Homo sapiens: one gene and its partners. The protein of the gene in region 3 purifies or fractionates together with the protein of the main gene of each other region. This does not show direct contact. Each region holds a gene or a part of one and is shown on either strand. Other genes may lie near its edges.

What was found.
Region 1: the proteins of PHB2 (region 3) and MAP1LC3B purify together in Homo sapiens (affinity purification with western blotting; 3 studies listed by BioGRID and IntAct, with this or other methods). This does not show direct contact.
Region 2: the proteins of PHB2 (region 3) and NMRAL1 purify together in Homo sapiens (affinity purification with mass spectrometry; 4 studies listed by BioGRID and IntAct, with this or other methods). This does not show direct contact.

The regions. Positions count from the first base shown.
Region 1 is NC_000016.10:87,402,336-87,405,311, forward strand, and holds the end of MAP1LC3B (microtubule-associated protein 1 light chain 3 beta), read left to right. Parts: intron 1-587; coding exon 588-762; 3' UTR 763-2,439; downstream 2,440-2,976.
Region 2 is NC_000016.10:4,464,589-4,471,625, reverse strand, and holds part of NMRAL1 (nmrA-like family domain-containing protein 1), read left to right. Parts: intron 1-210; exon of another isoform or gene 211-312; intron 313-1,927; exon of another isoform or gene 1,928-2,032; coding exon of another isoform or gene 2,033-2,122; intron 2,123-2,160; coding exon 2,161-2,399; intron 2,400-5,223; coding exon 5,224-5,473; intron 5,474-7,037. UniProt on the Homo sapiens protein: Redox sensor protein. Undergoes restructuring and subcellular redistribution in response to changes in intracellular NADPH/NADP(+) levels.
Region 3 is NC_000012.12:6,967,665-6,974,542, forward strand, and holds the start of PHB2 (prohibitin-2), read right to left. Parts: upstream 3,001-6,878; 5' UTR 2,880-3,000; coding exon 2,753-2,879; intron 2,617-2,752; coding exon 2,532-2,616; intron 1,914-2,531; coding exon 1,834-1,913; intron 932-1,833; coding exon 747-931; intron 358-746; coding exon 228-357; intron 116-227; coding exon 12-115; intron 1-11. Other genes in the region: EMG1 (ribosomal RNA small subunit methyltransferase NEP1), read left to right, coding at 3,260-3,427, 6,675-6,776.

The DNA of each region.
Region 1 (2,976 bases), on a different chromosome or scaffold from region 3:
TTATGAAACTTACAGTTAAATCTTTAGTTCTGGTTAAAATCTTTAAAAAATATTTTTCAGCTGAATTCAGTTCTGATTCAGTTATGATTAAAACAATTTCAACTTAAACTATAAAATGTTTCTTTTTTTGAGGTTTTATATTACTTGCTAGACTGCAGAGCCCGTTTCTTTCATCATAACATCGTTTAGATGTTTCCTGTTTAAAATCAGTGTTACAAGTTATTAAGGTATTGTACAGCAAAGCTAGTTAAAGAGAATGTAGACTCTGTGAGTGGCAGTAAATGGCACAGGCTTAGATCTTAGAATAGTTCAGAAACTGTATTTGAACTGCTTTCTTATATTAGACAGTTTAACAGCTGTTCAGACAGTATACTAGTTTAAAATCAGCCTAATATGTAATCTTTCAGTGATTATAGCTCATGTCAATATAATCAAAGGAAGTGTCCTGTGCTTTATGAGAAGTATTGGATTCAAGAGCATTTAGAACATTTTTATATTTTACCGATCAGAGTGGGTGATATTTTAACACATGCTTCATCCTTCTTGTATTGTTGTCAATATTTCTTCACGTTGTTTTCTTTCAATAGAAGGCGCTTACAGCTCAATGCTAATCAGGCCTTCTTCCTGTTGGTGAACGGACACAGCATGGTCAGCGTCTCCACACCAATCTCAGAGGTGTATGAGAGTGAGAAAGATGAAGATGGATTCCTGTACATGGTCTATGCCTCCCAGGAGACGTTCGGGATGAAATTGTCAGTGTAAAACCAGAAAAAATGCAGCTCTTCTAGAATTGTTTAAACCCTTACCAAGGAAAAAAAAGGGATGTTACCAACTGAGATCGATCAGTTCATCCAATCACAGATCATGAAACAGTAGTGTTCCCACCTAGGAGTGTTAGGAAGTTGTGTTTGTGTTTCAAGCAGAAAAACTGAGCTCCAAGTGAGCACATTCAGCTTTGGAAACTATATTATTTAATGTAGGCTAGCTTGTTTTCAAATTTTAAAAGTTTAAAAATAAAATACTTTGCATTCTAAGTTGCCAATAAAATAGACCTTCAAGTTATTTTAATGCTCTTTTCTCACTAATAGGAACTTGTAATTCCAGCAGTAATTTAAAGGCTTTCAGAGAGACCCTGAGTCTTCTCTTCAGGTTCACAAAACCCGCCGCCTTTTTGGGTAGAAGTTTTCTACTCAGCTAGAGAGATCTCCCTAAGAGGATCTTTAGGCCTGAGTTGTGAAGCGCAACCCCCGCAAAACGCATTTGCCATCACAGTTGGCACAAACGCAGGGTAAACGGGCTGTGTGAGAAAACGGCCCTGACTGTAAACTGCTGAAGGTCCCTGACTCCTAAGAGAACCACACCCAAAGTCCTCACTCTTGCAGGGGTAGACATTTCTGGTTTGGTTTGTTCTCTAGATAGTTACACACATAAAGACACCACTCAAAAGGAAACTTGAATAATTTATAATTTTGATCGAGTTTCTTAAAAGACCCTGGAGAAAGAGTGGCATTTCTTCTGTTTCAGGTTTTGTCTGAGTTCAAACTAGTGCCTGTGTTGTTACGGAAAGCAGCAGTGTACCAGTGTCACTCTGGAGTACAGCGGGAGAAACACAAAATAGTATAACTGAAAACATTAACATTCAGACACACTCCCTTCTGCCTTCCGGCTTAAAGCTGTGGATGATCCACGTTTTTGTTTTTTTAATGTTAAATGTGTAACTCAGTATTACTGAAAAGGTACCCACATTTTGAATAGTAGTTATCACTCTTAGGTCAGACAGCCATCAGAATTCTCCCACACCAAGTGCATGTCAGTTGTGGAGAAAACATAGCAAAAAGAGCCGTACGCTCTTTACAGATACTAATGTCAAGAGTTAAACCTCCTCAGGTTCAACCTGTGATAAAAGACTAGTGCTTCCCAGTACTTGCATGGGGTTCACTATTTATAGTTTTCTTGGGAGTATCACAGGAAAATCACAATTACACCACTTTAGACCCTATGTGTAGCAGGTCACAACTTACCCTTGTGTGTTTAGATGTGTATGAAATACCTGTATACGTTAGTGAAAGCTGTTTACTGTAACGGGGAAAACCAGATTCTTTGCATCTGGGCCCTCTACTGATTGTTAAAGGAGTTCCTGTCACCTGCTCCCCCCACCCCCGCATGCGTCTGTCCACTTGGCTAACTTTTAATATGTGTATTTTTACATTATGTATATTCTTAACTGGACTGTCTCGTTTAGACTGTATACATCATATCTGACATTATTGTAACTACCGTGTGATCAGTAAGATTCCTGTAAGAAATACTGCTTTTTAAGAAAAAAAATAACATGCTGAGGGGTGACCTATATCCCATGTGAGTGGTCACTTTATTTATAGGATCTTTAAAACATTTTTAATGAACTAAGTTGAATAAAGGCACAATTAAAAACTGTCATCAAAGCCCAGTTTAATGGGATTCCGTATTTGAGACTTGGATCCCACACTGTTTGTACTTTCCAAAGCCAAGCGGGTCCTTGTATTTCCAAGGAGGGGCATCCAGGCTGGTCCTCTCGTGCAGAGGGGGCACTCACGTGGATGAGCATTGCCCTCCGAGGGCCTCTGCCTTGTCAAGGGCACCCTCCACCTTGGCCAAGGCCCTGCCACCAGGTCTGGCCTTTACAAAGCCAAGTCCTCTTGAGAACTCACGTGCCACGGGCTATCAGGATGGATGCGAATTGACCTACATGTTTTGTGGGACTATAACACCCAACAACCTACTGCTGTAAACCACCCACCACCATAAGTATTTATTAGGTATGTGTGTGTGGTCGAGAAAGTGTACCCTTGGGGGACCCAGTGGGGAGCTGCTGGCATCGTGTACAGATGCAGCACACACACACTTCAGCACTCAGACCAGACAAAAAGTGGCCAACCTCATCATCTAGGGAACTCTGAGCCCAGCTCCCGTTTAAGTAGGCACCTAAAAGTCTGT
Region 2 (7,037 bases), on a different chromosome or scaffold from region 3:
TTTTTTGGAGACAGGGCCTTACTCTGTTACCCAGGCTGGCGTGCAGTGGTGTGATCACGGCTCACTGCAGCCTCAACCTCCTGGGTTCAGGCTTTCCTCCAGCCTCAGCCTCCCTGGTAGCTGGGACTACAGGCACATGCCACCACGCCCAGCTAATTTTTGGTTTTTTTTTGTAGAGATATGGTTTCACCATGTTGCCCAGGCTGGTCTCAAACTCCTGAGCTCAAGAGATCTGCGTGCCTCAGCCTCCCAAAGTGTCTGGATTACAGGCATGAGCCCCTGGGCCCAGCTGCAACGCGCAAAATCTTAAGGGTACATCTGACCGATGCGCATGCCTGTGTGACTCAAGCTCCATCGAGATCTGAATAAGTTTTTGTATTCCTTTCTGTTAACTATTTTTCTTTGTCTCGTTTTTGAGCAGATCTGAATATGGTTGTGTATCTGAATATGGCTTTATATTCTACTTCAGGAAGAATTCAAATCCCATCAAGATCTGAATATGGTTTTTTCTTTTGTTTTGAGACAGAGTCTCACTGTGTCACCCAGGCTGGAGTGCAGTGGCCCAATCTCGGCTCACTGCAACCTCTGCCACCCTGGTTCAAGCGATTCTCCTGCCTCAGCCTCCCAAGTAGCTGGGATTACAGGCTCCACCATGCCCAGCTAATTTTTTTTTTTTTTTGAGACGGAGTCTTGCTCTGTCGTCCAGGCTGGAGTGCAGTGGCGCGATCTCGGCTCACTGCAAGCTCCACCTCCTGGGTTCATGCCATTCTCCTGCCTCAGTCTCCCGAGTAGCTGGGACTACAGGCGCCCGCCACCACGCCCGGCTAAGTTTTTGTATTTTTAGTAGAGACAGGGTTTCACCGTGTTAGCCAGGATGGTCTCGATCTCCTGACCTCATGATCCGCCCGCCTCGGCCTCCCAAAGTGCTGGGATTACAGTTGTGAGCTACTGCACCCGGCCTCATTTTTTTATTTTTAGTAGAGACGGGGTTTCACCATCTTGGCTAGGCTGGTCTTGAGCTCCTGACCTCGTGATCCACCTGTCTCAGCCTCCCAAAGTGCTAGGATTACAGCCACTGCACCCAGCCTGAATATGGTTTTGTATTCTACTTTTTTTACTTTATTACATCACAAATATTTTTACCTTTATTTTTTTGAGACCAAGTTTCGCTCTTGTTGCCCAGGCTGGAGTGCAATGGCGCGATCTCGGCTCACCGCAACCTCTGCCTCCTGGGTTCAAGCGATTCTCCTGCCTCAGCCTCTCGAGTAGCTGGGATTACAGGCATGTGCCACCACGCCTAGCTAATTTTGTATTTTTAGTAGAGACAGTGGTTTCTCCATGTTGGTCGGGCTGTTCTCAAACTCCCAACTTCAGGTGATCTACCCCCCTCGGCCTCTCAAAGTGCTAGGATTACAGGTGTGAGCCACTGCACCAGGCCCTTTTTTTTTTTTTTTTTTTTTTTTTGAGAGGGAATCTCACTTTGTCACCCAGGCTGGAGTGCAGTGGCGTGATCTGGGCTCACTGCAACCTCCGCCTCCTGTGTTCAAGCGATTCTCCTGCCTTAGCCTCCTGAGTAGCTGTGACTACAGGCGGGTGCCACCACGCCCGGCTAAGTTTGTATTTTTAGCAGAGACAGGGTTTCACTGTGTTAGCCAGGATGGTCTCGGTCTCCTTACCTGGTGATCCACTCGGCCTGGCCTCCCAAAGTGCTGTGATTACAGGCGTGAGCCACCATGCCTGGCCTTTTTTTTTTTTTTTTAATACAGATTCTCGCTGTGTCACCCAGGCTGTGGTGCAGTGGCGCAATCTCAGCTCACTGCAACCTCCGCCTCCTGGGTTCCAGCAATTCTCGTGCCTCAGCCTCCTGAGTAGCTGGGAGTACAGGCATGTGCCTTCACACCCAGCTAATTTTTGTATTTTTTGATAGAGGCGGGGTTTCACCAAGCCAAGATCGTGCCACTGCACTTCAGCCTGGGTGATAGAGTGAGACTCCATCTCAAAAAAATAAAATAAAGAAAATAAAAATACCTGAATGAGAATCGTCGTTGAGAAGGTTTCCTGGATGCTCCTTGCTGTGGTGGAGCACTCCCTTCGGGGTTTCGCCCTTCAGTGGGACTTTCAGGTAGGTCTGACCTGAGAGGTCTTTTTGATTCTTTGTAGGTGCCCAGGGTGGCTCCGTGGCCCGCACACTCCTGGAAGATGGGACATTCAAGGTTCGAGTGGTGACCCGAAACCCTAGGAAGAAGGCAGCAAAGGAGCTGAGGCTGCAAGGTGCAGAAGTAGTGCAGGGAGACCAAGATGACCAGGTCATCATGGAGCTGGCCCTGAATGGGGCTTACGCCACCTTCATCGTGACCAATTACTGGGAGAGCTGCAGCCAGGAGCAGGAGGTCAAGCAGGTGAGGGCAGGCAGGAGCTGCAGGGAGGCCCGGCCAGGCTAGGAGCAGAGCGCCTGGGAGGAGCTCCGACTCTGCAGGGAGGTTGGAGCACTGCAGGCCTTTCCCTCTTCTTCATGCCTCTGCCTGCTCTAGGCTGTGAAGCAGGTGGACGCTGTTGCTTTCTCATCCAATTACTTTTTTTTTGTTTGTTTGAGGCCGTCTCAGTCTCCGTGAGCAACCACGCCTGGCCTGTTCGTTTGTTTTTTTTTTTTTTAATCAAAAATGTTAGAAGTTTTTTTTAAAAAGTAATTTCCACTTTTATTTTAGATTCAGGGGTACATGCACAGGTTTGTTACATTGGTATATTGAGTGATGCTGAGGTCTGGGGTGTGACTGGACCTGTCACCCAGGTAGTGGGCACAGTACCCAGTAGGTAGGTTTTCAACCCTTGCCTCCCTCCCTCCCGTGGTTCCCAGTGTCTGTTGTTGCCTTCATGTCCACGTGTACCCATCCAAACTTGTTATTAGCCTTGACCCTTTCTTCAATTATGGTCTTACCTAGAAGCCCATTATATAGAGCAGACAAAGACAACTTCTCTGATTAACGCAGATCTTTTTTTTTTTTTTTTTTTTGAGACTGAGTCTTGCTCTGTCGCCCAGGCCGGAGTGCAGTGGGGTGATCTCGGCTCACTGCAACCTCTGCCTCCCAGATTCAAGCAATTCTTCTGCCTCAGCCTCCCGAGTAGCTGGGATTATAGGTGTGTACCAGCACACCCAACTAATTTTTGTATTTTTAGTAGAGGCGGGGTTTCACCATGTTGGCCAGGCTGGTCTTGAACTCCTGACCTCAGGTGATCCGCCCACCTCGGCCTCCCAAAGTGCTGGGATTACAGGCGTAAGCCACATGCCCGGCCCTGAGCTGATCTTATTTCTTTCTTTATTTTTTGAGGCCGAGTTTCGCTTTTGTTGCCCAGGCTGGCATGCAATGGCGCAATCTTGGCTCACCGCAACCTCCGCCTCCTGGGTTCAAGTTATTCTCCTGCCCCAGCCTCCCGAATAGCTGAGATTACATGCATGCGTCACCATGCCCTGGTAATTTTTTTGTATTTTTAGTACAGACGGGGTTTCTCCATGTTGGTCAAGCTGGTCTCTAACTCCCGGCCTCAGGCGATCCGCCTGCCTCGGCCTCCCAAAGTGCTGGGACTGCGGGCATGAGCCACTGCGCCCAGCCCAGCAGATCTTATTTCTAATCCTGATGATTCCCTGTGGGCTTCCTGGTACTGTCACGAAAAAGGACCACAATCCACGTGGCTTAAAACCATAGAAATCAGCTGGGCACAGTGGCTCATGCTTGTAATCCCCACACTTTGGGAGGCCGAGGCGGGCAGATCACTTGAAGTCAGGAGTTTGAGACCATCCTGGCCAACACAGTGAAACCCTGTCTCTACTAAAAATACAAAAATTAGCTGGGCATGGTGGTGGGCGCCTGTAATCCCAGCTACTCAGGAGGCTGAGGCAGGAGAATTGCTTGAACCCAAGAGGCGGAGGTTGCAGTGAGCCAAGATTGTGCCACTGCACTCCGGCCTGAGCGACAGAGCTAGACTCTGTCTCAAAAACAAAAACAAAAACCACAGAAATCGATTCTCTGATATTCTAGAAGCTAGAAGTTCAAAATCAAGGTGTCAGCAATGTCACCCTCTCTCCAGAGTCTTGGAGGCCAGGCGTGGTAGTTTATGCTTGTAATCCCAGCACTTTGGGAGGCTGAGGTGGGCAGATCACTTAAGGTCAGGAGTTCAAGACCAGCCTGGCCAACACAGCAAAACCCTGTCTCTACAAAAAATACAAAAATTAGCCAGGCATGGTGGCGGGCACCTGTAGTCCCAGCGACTCAGGAGGGTGAGGCAGGAGAATTGCTTGAATCCAGGAAGCGGAGGCTGCAGTGAGCAGAGATCACGCCACTGCACTCCTGCCTGGGTGACAGAGTGAGAGTCCATCTTAAAAAACAAAACAAAACAAGGGGTTTGAGGGAAATCCTTCTTCACTGTTTCTGGCTTCTCATGGCTCCAGGTGTTCCTGGGCTTGTGGCCACAAAGCTCCAATCTCCGCTTCCCTCTTCGCATGGCCTTCTCCAGGTGTTGTCTCTTCTCCCGTCTCTTATAAGTACCCTGGTTACTGGATTTAGCGCCTATCTAGTTAGTGCAGGATGTTCCCATCTCAAGATCCTTCACGTAATTACATCTGCCAAGACCCTTTTTCCGAATAAGGTCACATTCACAGTTTTCAGGAATGAGGATGCGGCATATCTTTTTGGAGGCCACCGTCCGAATCTCTGCGTCACCTCATGCAGTAGGTAGTGTTGTCATCTGCATTTTACCAGCGAGGTCAGGATGGTGCCATCACTTCTCTGGGGTCACACTGCTCGTACATGGCAGAGCCTGATTTGAACCTAGGCAGCTGTGGTGCCTCTGTATAGCCTCCCAGGGCTCTCCAAGGAAGATGGCTGAGCTCCATGGGCAGGGTGTTCTCACACCAGCAGAGATGGGACGTGTGCATTCTCCTTTAGACCTCCATGCAGGCCGTCCCCCTGCAGCCGACCTGCCCCCCCGTCCTATGTTGCACATGGTGGGCCAGAGTCAGTGGCTGGTAGAAGGCTTCCGGGGCTGTGTTTACGGGCGTGGTGTCATGTGTGAACATCATTCCAGGAGAGGGGGCCTCCTCAAGGGTAAGTGGGGTCTAGATGTTAACCTCGCAGATGGTGGCCGCTCCGGGATTAGAATGCTGGGGCTGTGACCAGGGACAGACATCCTTCTTCTGAGCCTTGTGATCTCTCCTTCCCTGCCCTCCAGGGGAAGCTGCTCGCTGATCTGGCCAGGCGCCTGGGCCTCCACTATGTGGTCTACAGCGGCCTGGAGAACATCAAGAAGCTGACGGCAGGGAGATTGGCCGCCGCGCACTTTGACGGCAAAGGGGAGGTGGAGGAATATTTCCGGGACATTGGCGTTCCCATGACCAGTGTGCGGCTGCCCTGCTATTTTGAGAACCTCCTCTCCCACTTCTTGCCCCAGAAAGCCCCAGACGGAAAGAGCTACTTGCTGAGTAAGTGCCCTTTCTCGCACACGGTGAGGCAGAGCTCTCACCCTGTAAAGCCGTTGGTGTAACAGACCGCGGGCCGCTGTCACGTGGTGCCAGGTTCAAGCCGTGGCTCCCTCACGTTAGGCCCAGGACTGAGCACATCCTGTCAGCTTGCGGGGCCTCAGCTTCCTGTTCTGTGAGATGGGCTCTATACCAATGTTTGCAGGGGTGGCAAGATCTGCTGAGATGGTGGTGACACGATATTCGCTTGGTCCATTGGAAGGCTTTACAGAGAGGACCTAGTGATTGTCAGTTCTCCTTCAAAGATGAGGAGGGCCGGGCGCTGTGGCTTATGCCTGTAGTCCCAGCACTTTGGGAGGCTGAGGCGGGGAGACCAGCCTGGCCAACATGGTGAAACCCCATCTCTACTAAAAATACAAAAATTAGCTGGGCGTGGTGCCACCCACCTGTACTGGCAGCTACTAGGGAGGCTGAGGCAGGGGAATCGCTTGAACCCAGGAGGTGGAGGTTGCAGTGAGCTGAGATTGTGCCACTGCACTCTAGCCTAGGCGACAAGAGCAACACTCCGTCTCAAAACAAACAAAACAAAACAAAACAAAACAAAAAAACCAAAGACGAGGAGAGGATTTGGAAAATGAAGTTCAGTTGCAGATTTCACAAACTAGGAAAGCTCTTTCTTCTCAGTGCCCATTGGGGCTATAAACAGGTTAGGTGCACTGGCCCTGGCTGGGAACAAGGCTCACCCAACCTGTGTCCTGCTGGTCACTCAGTGATCAGGGCAGGAGGGGTTGGTGCCTCTGGCTGGCCACTCCTTACCCTCTGGTTGAATGCCAGGTCACCCTCGCATAAGGGCCCAGCCCATGGGAGTCCTGCTCACCTGGCGGGCCAAGTCTGGTGGTAACAGTAGCCCTTTGGTACCACCATTTATTATAGTTTGCAAAGCTGGCCAGGCGCAGTGGCTTACGCCTGTAATCCCAGCACTTTGGGAAGCCGAGGTGGGCAGACCACCAGTTCAGGAGTTTGAGACCAGCCTGGCCAGCATGGTGTGAAACCCCATCTCTACTAAAAATACAAAAATTAGCCAGCCTGGCGTGGTGGTGCACGCCTGTAATCCCAGCTACTCGGGAGGCTGAGGCAGAAGAATCGCTTGAACCCAGGAGGCAGAGGTTGCAGTGAGCCGAGATCGTGGCACTGCACTCCAGCCTGGGTGACAGAGCAAGACCCCGTCTCAAAAAAAAAAGGCCGGGCACGGTGGCTTACGCCTGTAATCCCAGCACTTTGGGAGGCCGAGGAGGGCGGATCACGAGGTTCAGGAGATCGAGACCATCATGGCTAACTTGGTGAAACCCCTGTCTCTACTAAAAATACAAAAACTTAGCCGGGTGTGGCGGCAGGCGCCTGTAGTCCCAGCTACTCGGGAGGCTGAGGCAGGAGAATGGTGTGAACCCGGGAGGTGGAGCTTGTGGTGAGCCAAGATTGCGCCACTGCACTCCAGCCTGGGCGACAGAGCGAGACTCCATCTCAAAAAAAAAAAAAAAAAAAAACCTGCAGTCAGGGATATCTCCTG
Region 3 (6,878 bases):
CAGAAGGATATCATCTTGGCAGCCTCGGCCTCACCCTCGGCCTGCACAATTTTCTGCCGCTGTTCCTGCTTTGCTTTTTCTACCAAGAATTGGGCCCGCTGGGCCTCCTGCTGGGCTGTGGTGGGAGAGAGTCAGGGAGACCCTGTCCTGGGTCAGGAGCCCCACCCATGGAGTCTTTCCTCCTCCTGCATCTCAGAAGCCCTCACCCCACGGCTCTTGCGACTCACCCACTTGTTTGGCTTCTACAGCAGCTGTGTACTCTCGGCTAAAGCTCAGCTCTGTGATGGCCACATCATCCAGGATGAGGCTGAAGTCCTTGGCCCTCTCTGTCAGCTCCCGGCGGATCAACAGGGATACCTGAGGGCAGGGGTGAAGAGGGGAAGGGAGGGGTGGTTTGAGGGGACTGGGGAGCTGAAAGGAAGGTTGCGACCCCTAACCCTTCACTCTCAATACAACATGCACTGCCTTAGCTTCCTGTCAGGCAAACCTGTAACATAAGCCTCTCTGCTCGAAGAGGTGCAGGAAAAGCCAAGACTTGGCCATTTTCCTCTGTGCTTCCTAACACCGAGTGCTATCGAGTTCTAATGCTGGCTCTCCTTATTTCACAGTGGCAATTAGCACAGCTTTTAGGTGGAAATGGCACTAGGGTGACAATGCTTTTCTAATAAGCTGCCTTTCCTAATTCCCAATACTCTGGGCCTAGGAAGGAAAGGCTGACACCACGCAGATGGTGGTGGGAGTCAGACCTGGGCCCGCTGGGTGATCAGCTGTGAGGCATTGAACTTGGCCACCACACTCTTGAGCACCTCGTTGACAATGGACGGCAACACTCGTTCCTCGTAGTCCAGCCCTAGGCGCTGGTACATGCTAGGAAGCTCCTGAGCATTGGGTCGAGACAACACTCGCAGGGAGATATTCACCATCTGTAGGTCTGAGATTGAGGTCAGCAGTGGCTGGTCAAGGCCAAACACCCTTTCCCAAGCATTTTCTCCTTCATGTTCCTCCCTGTATGCCCTGTGCAATGGTGTACAGCCTGGCACTACCCTGGGGGGAGGAGAGTTAATCAGGCTGACAAGGAAGACAAGACGCAGCACAGCTGAAATGCACCCTCACCCACTGTGAAGCCTTGAACTGCAAACCCCGTCACCAGCAGAGCTGACTACTCTTTCCCCCTCTGTACTCTGTGCAACCTCTAACGTGGGCGCTTTCGTGCTGTACCGTAATCATGTCTCCTGTAAGGACTTGGGGGACAAGAATTGTGTTTAATGAATCTTTTATTCCCAGGGCCCAGTCTAGTAAATGAATAAGCGACCTGCACTAGGTATAGCACAAAGAAGTACATTACAGGTTACAGGTGAGCTACCTGACCCAGGGTGTATATGTGTGCGTGGGTGGGGAGGAGGAAGAGGTCTGGGGAACTCAAAGGCACGGCTTTTATGTATGGTCTAGAAGGAGAGAACAGGTGAACTAGTCAAGCTTAGGGACAAACTTCTCCAGAACAGAGTGTACTAGTGGATGTAACTGTAGATATAGTAAGTCAAGCAGTTAGAAAAAAAAGGCTTTAAAACAAAGCTTTGATCTAGGCAGTGAACAAGACGAGGGACAAACAATACTCTTATTGAATACACGTCAGGGAGGAGACAGTAAAAAGCACGCAAACACAGTGTGTTCAGAATTTGCTGCTTTGACCCCAGGAGGCAGGTATTTTTGTTACAGCTCTTGCAGATGTGGAAAGAGGCCTAAAGGCCTGACACTACCATATTCCCCTGGGGTTTCTTGCCAGCTACCTTGATCATCCCACCTGCCATGTGATTACCAAGTGCTCAGACCTACCTTTGGAGCCTGTAGGGGAGGAGATTTTTCGAGGTCTGGCCCGAATGTCATAGATAATGGGGTACTGGAACCAAGGGATCCTGGAGAGGACAGGGATAGGTATTAAGAGGCCACAGTTTCGGCCGGGCGCGGTGGCTCACGCCTGTAATCCCAGCACTTTGGGAGGCCGAGGCGGGCGGATCATTTGAGGTCAGGAGTTCGAGACCAGCTTGATCTACATAGTGAAACCCCGTCTCTACTAAAATACAAAAATTAGCCGGGCGTGGTGGCGGGCGCCTGTAATCCCAGCTACTCGTGAGGCTGAGGCAGGAGAATCGCTTGAAATCAGGAGGCGGAGGTTGCAGTGAGCCGAGATCGCGCCACTGCACTCCAGCCTGGGCGACAGAGCAAGACTCCCTCTCCAAAAAAAAAAAAAGAAAAGGCCGCAGTTTCACTAGCCTTGCCCGGTTTCCCCTCACCACGCGTTTTTTGGCCTGCTCCTCTCCACGACCACAGACAAGGAGAGATTCTCTTGTCCCTCTGGAAAACAACAGTTTGTATGCTGCTGGAGGTTCTCGCAGCACCCACTATCCTAGGGGCAGGGATGAGGAGGGTGGGAAAAGAGCAGCGTTGAATCCTGTTGCACGTCCGACTATAGCCACTGCTGGGTCGGCGTCAAGGGTGAAAGGTCAGGGTCAGCAGGCTCTGCCCGCCATTACCTGAAGTGAAGGCCCTCGGCCAGGATAGTGTCCTGCTGCACTCCACCGATCCGATTGAAGAAGATGGCTCTGTGCCCGCCTTCCACTGTGGGGAGATGGGTGGTGATCAGGCCAGGCCGCTGCTCAGAGGAAATGCTAGGCCCGTGGAGGGGCGCGGGGACAGGGCAAGGGGTTTGGGGGAGGGACTGGAAGCGTCCGGCGAGCAGGCGGAGGTTGCTCACCGGTGAACACAGATTCGCGCACACCGTAGGCCACGGCGCCGGCCCCCAGCAACAGCTTCAGGGCCGTGCCCATGCCCCGGGGCCCGGCGGGCAGCCGTCCCGCCAAGTCCTTCAAGTTCTGGGCCATGTCTGATCTTGAGGCCGGCGGCACTGGAGGTCAGAAGGGGGTGCCGGCCCGCCTCTACCCCGCTCCGGCTTAGGTACTGCACCCTTCACACGAGGGTTCGGGCCCGTAAGGCTGGCGAAAGAAAGGGCAGCGGAAGTGCGCTCCCTTTGAAACCCTCCCCCTTAGCCCACTACGGACCCGAACTTCGCGCACAGGAATCGCGCATACGGAAGTCCCGCCCCTTTCTGGAAGGCTGCCCTCCCAGGGAGGGCAGCGCAAGACAGCAAGTCATCTCCATTTCCTGGCCCACTTTCAAAATGGCAGCCGGAAGGAAATTTGTGATTAGAAGCCGCGCTGTTCTTATTTAAGAGCGTTAGCGCAACTTCCGGTATTGTTGCAAGATGGCCGCGCCCAGTGATGGATTCAAGCCTCGTGAACGAAGCGGTGGGGAGCAGGCACAGGACTGGGATGCTCTGCCACCCAAGCGGCCCCGACTAGGGGCAGGAAACAAGATCGGAGGCCGTAGGCTTATTGTGGTGCTGGAAGGGGCCAGTCTGGAGACAGTCAAGGTAGTTTGGGACAGGAAGTGGAGAAGTAGTAAATCGATAGGTTGGGACTCCGTGGAATGAGGGTAAGGGGCCCAGAGTGGATGTAGAAAGCAGAGAGGGGTGAAAGATGCTTTTGAAGGAAGGTGGCTTGGTTGGCTTTGCGTTGATTTGACATCCTGGGATGGTAGTACTCATTTTTCTTTCTTTTTTTTTTTTTTTTTGAGACGGAGTCTCGCTCTGTCGCCCAGGCTGGAGTGCAGTTGCGCGACCTCGGCTCACTGCAACTTCTGCCTCCCGCCTTCAAACAGTTCTCCTGACTCAGCCTCTGGAGTAGCTGGGACTACAGGCAGGTGCCACCACGCCCGGCTAATTTTTTTGTATTTTTAGTTCAGATGGGGTTTCACCATGTTGGCCACGCTGGTCTCGAACTCCTGACCTCAAGTGATCCGCCCGCCTCGGCCTCCCAAAGTGTTGGGATTAGAGGCGTGAGCCACTGTGCCCGGCCGGTAGTACTCATTTTCTTTTGCTCTTTTTGAATGATATTCTAGCCCTCACCTCCTTGCTTCCAATTGGTTTACCAGGATTCTGTGGTATAGTAGTCTAAGCAGAGGAAAGTTTCGTTCCTTGCGTCATTCCACATCCCAAGACAAGTTACTGGGCAGATGAGAAACGTAGTTATGTAGCCTAGTCTGCCCACACTTTTTGTAAGGGCTTCGTGTTTCAATTCATTAGTATCCATAGTCACCTCTCTCTAATATCCACCTATGATACACTGTCCAGACCTGGTTATTATTTAAAACTTTTACATCTGCATTTTTATCTATCATTCATCTCTTTCCCCACATGTAATAGAACCAGCAGTTCTCTATCTTAAAGCCTTGGGCAGTGTTCTTCCTCCTCCTTTCTCTTACCCGTTAGAACTAATTGAATAGGCCCAGAAGAAATCGCATTGGTTTAGAAGTCAGGCCAGGATTTTAATCTTCGTTCTAAATACACTTTTTTTTTTTTTTTTTTTTGAGATGGAGTCTCAGTCTCTACCAGGCTGGAGTGCAGTGGCACGATCTTGGCTCACTGCAGCCTCCGCCTCCCGGGTTCAATCGATTCTCCTGCCTCAGCCTCCAGAGTAGCTGGGATTACAGGCCTGCGCCTGTAATCTATTAAAAGAATAGAAAACATGATTATATCCTACTAATGGGTTGAAACTGTATTATTCATTCAAGAAGGTTTTTTTCTTCTATAACTAAGGGTGTCTCATGGACTTAGTTCTTGGTCATTTGTTCTTTGTGCTCTCTGTGACATTACTTCAACTATTCAATTTCAAAATCTACATCCCTTTTTTCGCAGACTTTTTGGAGCCATATATCTCAAGAATGTTGCTAGACATATACATTCCAGTGATACATAAAAACTTAACCTTCCAAAACTTGTATTTGTATATAACAGTTTGTTTTTAGACTTTTTACTGACCACCCTAATGCTCCTTGGGACTCCAAATTGCAACTTGGAATTATTTCTTTTAGCTGCTACAGATGTAGTCCACTTCTTTAACATCAAACTTCTGATGTCTTTTCCAGTGTACAGAGAGTTGTTAGGATAGTGTCTGTCAGTCATTCCCATCCTGCCCTGCTTACTCCAGAATTATTTTTGGCTTTGTGCTTGATACATTAGGATTCTGTGGTTTACAAAGCAGCTTCATATATAATCACTGCCCTTTAGTGTCTCAGCTCCCAATTTTCCTCAAAATTTCCTTTCTTCGTTTCCACTTTTTCTTTTTTGTTTCTTTTTTGAGATAGGGTCTTGCTCTGTTGCCTGGGCAACAGAGTGCAGTGGTGTGATGGTTCACTGCAGCCTCTACTTCCCTGGCTCAAGCAGTCCTCCCACCTCATCCTCCTGAGTAACTGGGACTGCCAGCAAATGGCACTGCGCCTGGCTAATTTTTTTTTTTTTTTTTGTGAGACAGGGTCCCACCGTGTTGCCCAGGCCGGTCTCAAATTCCTGGGCTCAAGTGATCCTTCCACCTCGGCCTCCTAAAGTGTTGGGATCACAGGCATAAGCCACCACACCTGGCTACTTTGTCTTGATTCCATCTGTACCTTTGCTCATGCCAGTCTTTCTTTTTTCTTTTTTTTGAGACAGGGTCTTGCTGGAGTGCAGTGGTACAGTCTTGGCTCACTGCAATCTCTGTCTCCTGGGCTCAAGCCATCCTCCCACCTTAGCCTCCCAAGTAGCTAGGACTACAGGCATGTGCCACCATGCCCAGCTAATTTTTGTATTTTTAGTAGAGATGGGGTTTCGCCATGTTGCCCAGGCTGGTCTTGAACTCCTGACCTTAAGTGATTTGCCTGCCTTGGCCTCCCAGAGTGCTGGGATTACAGCCGTGAGCCACTGCATCTGCCCCCATGCCCGTCTTAAAACTGGGAATAACCCCTCTTCCTTTTACTTCTGAGAGTTTTCTTTGATTAAACTGCCTCCTGCATCATTAGTTTTCACATTTCTTTTTTTTGAGATGGAGTCTCGCTCTGTTGCCCGGGCTGGAGTGCAGTGGCGCTGCAAGCTCCGCCTCCTGGGTTCATGCCATTCTCCTGCCTCTGCCTCCCAAGTAGCTGGGACTACAGGCGCCTGCCACCATGCCCGGCTAATTTTTTATATTTTTAGTAGAGATGGGGTTTCACCGTGTTAGCCACGATGGTCTCAATCTCCTGACCTTGTGATCTGCCCGCCTCGGCCTCCCAAAGTGCTGGGATTACAGGCGTGAGCCACCACGCCCGGCCTTCACATTTCTTGTTCAGATTTGCAGCTCTTCACTTAGTGCATGTTTGGTGTACGCAAACTGAGGGTGGTGACTCGATATTTTGCACAGTACCTACTTACTGCTCCTGTAATAAACACAGCATTCAGCCTTGCTAACTACTAACTCCTGCCTAGTTCCAGGATGTCTCATTGGCCTTGCCTAACAGCCACAGGTTTTTTAATTAAATCCAGTGTATTAGTAGATAATGTGAAGTCACAGGTTGTGCCCTTCCTCCTGTTTCCCTCTCAGACCATTCACTGGGGAGTGCAAATAAGGCTGCACAGTAATCCCCCGAAGGGCTTGCTGGGCTCCACCCCCAGTGTTCCTGGTTTAGTAGGTCTAGGGTGGGCCTGAGAATTTGCCTAACAAGTTTCCAGGTGCAGCTGCTGCTGGTAGTTTGGGGACCACACTTGAAGAACCACGGGGCTAGGTAACAGAAGCTTATGCTGTTCTCTCGTCATGTTCCCTGTTCTTCAGGTAGGGAAGACATATGAGCTACTCAACTGTGACAAGCACAAGTCTATATTGTTGAAGAATGGACGGGACCCTGGGGAAGCGCGGCCAGATATCACCCACCAGGTAACTCCAGGGACAGTGCTCACAACCCTTTGAGCCTCTGTATGGAAGGGTTGGCAGCTGAGTGCTGCCTCTCTTCAGCCTTAACCATGTCTCGGTTTCTGC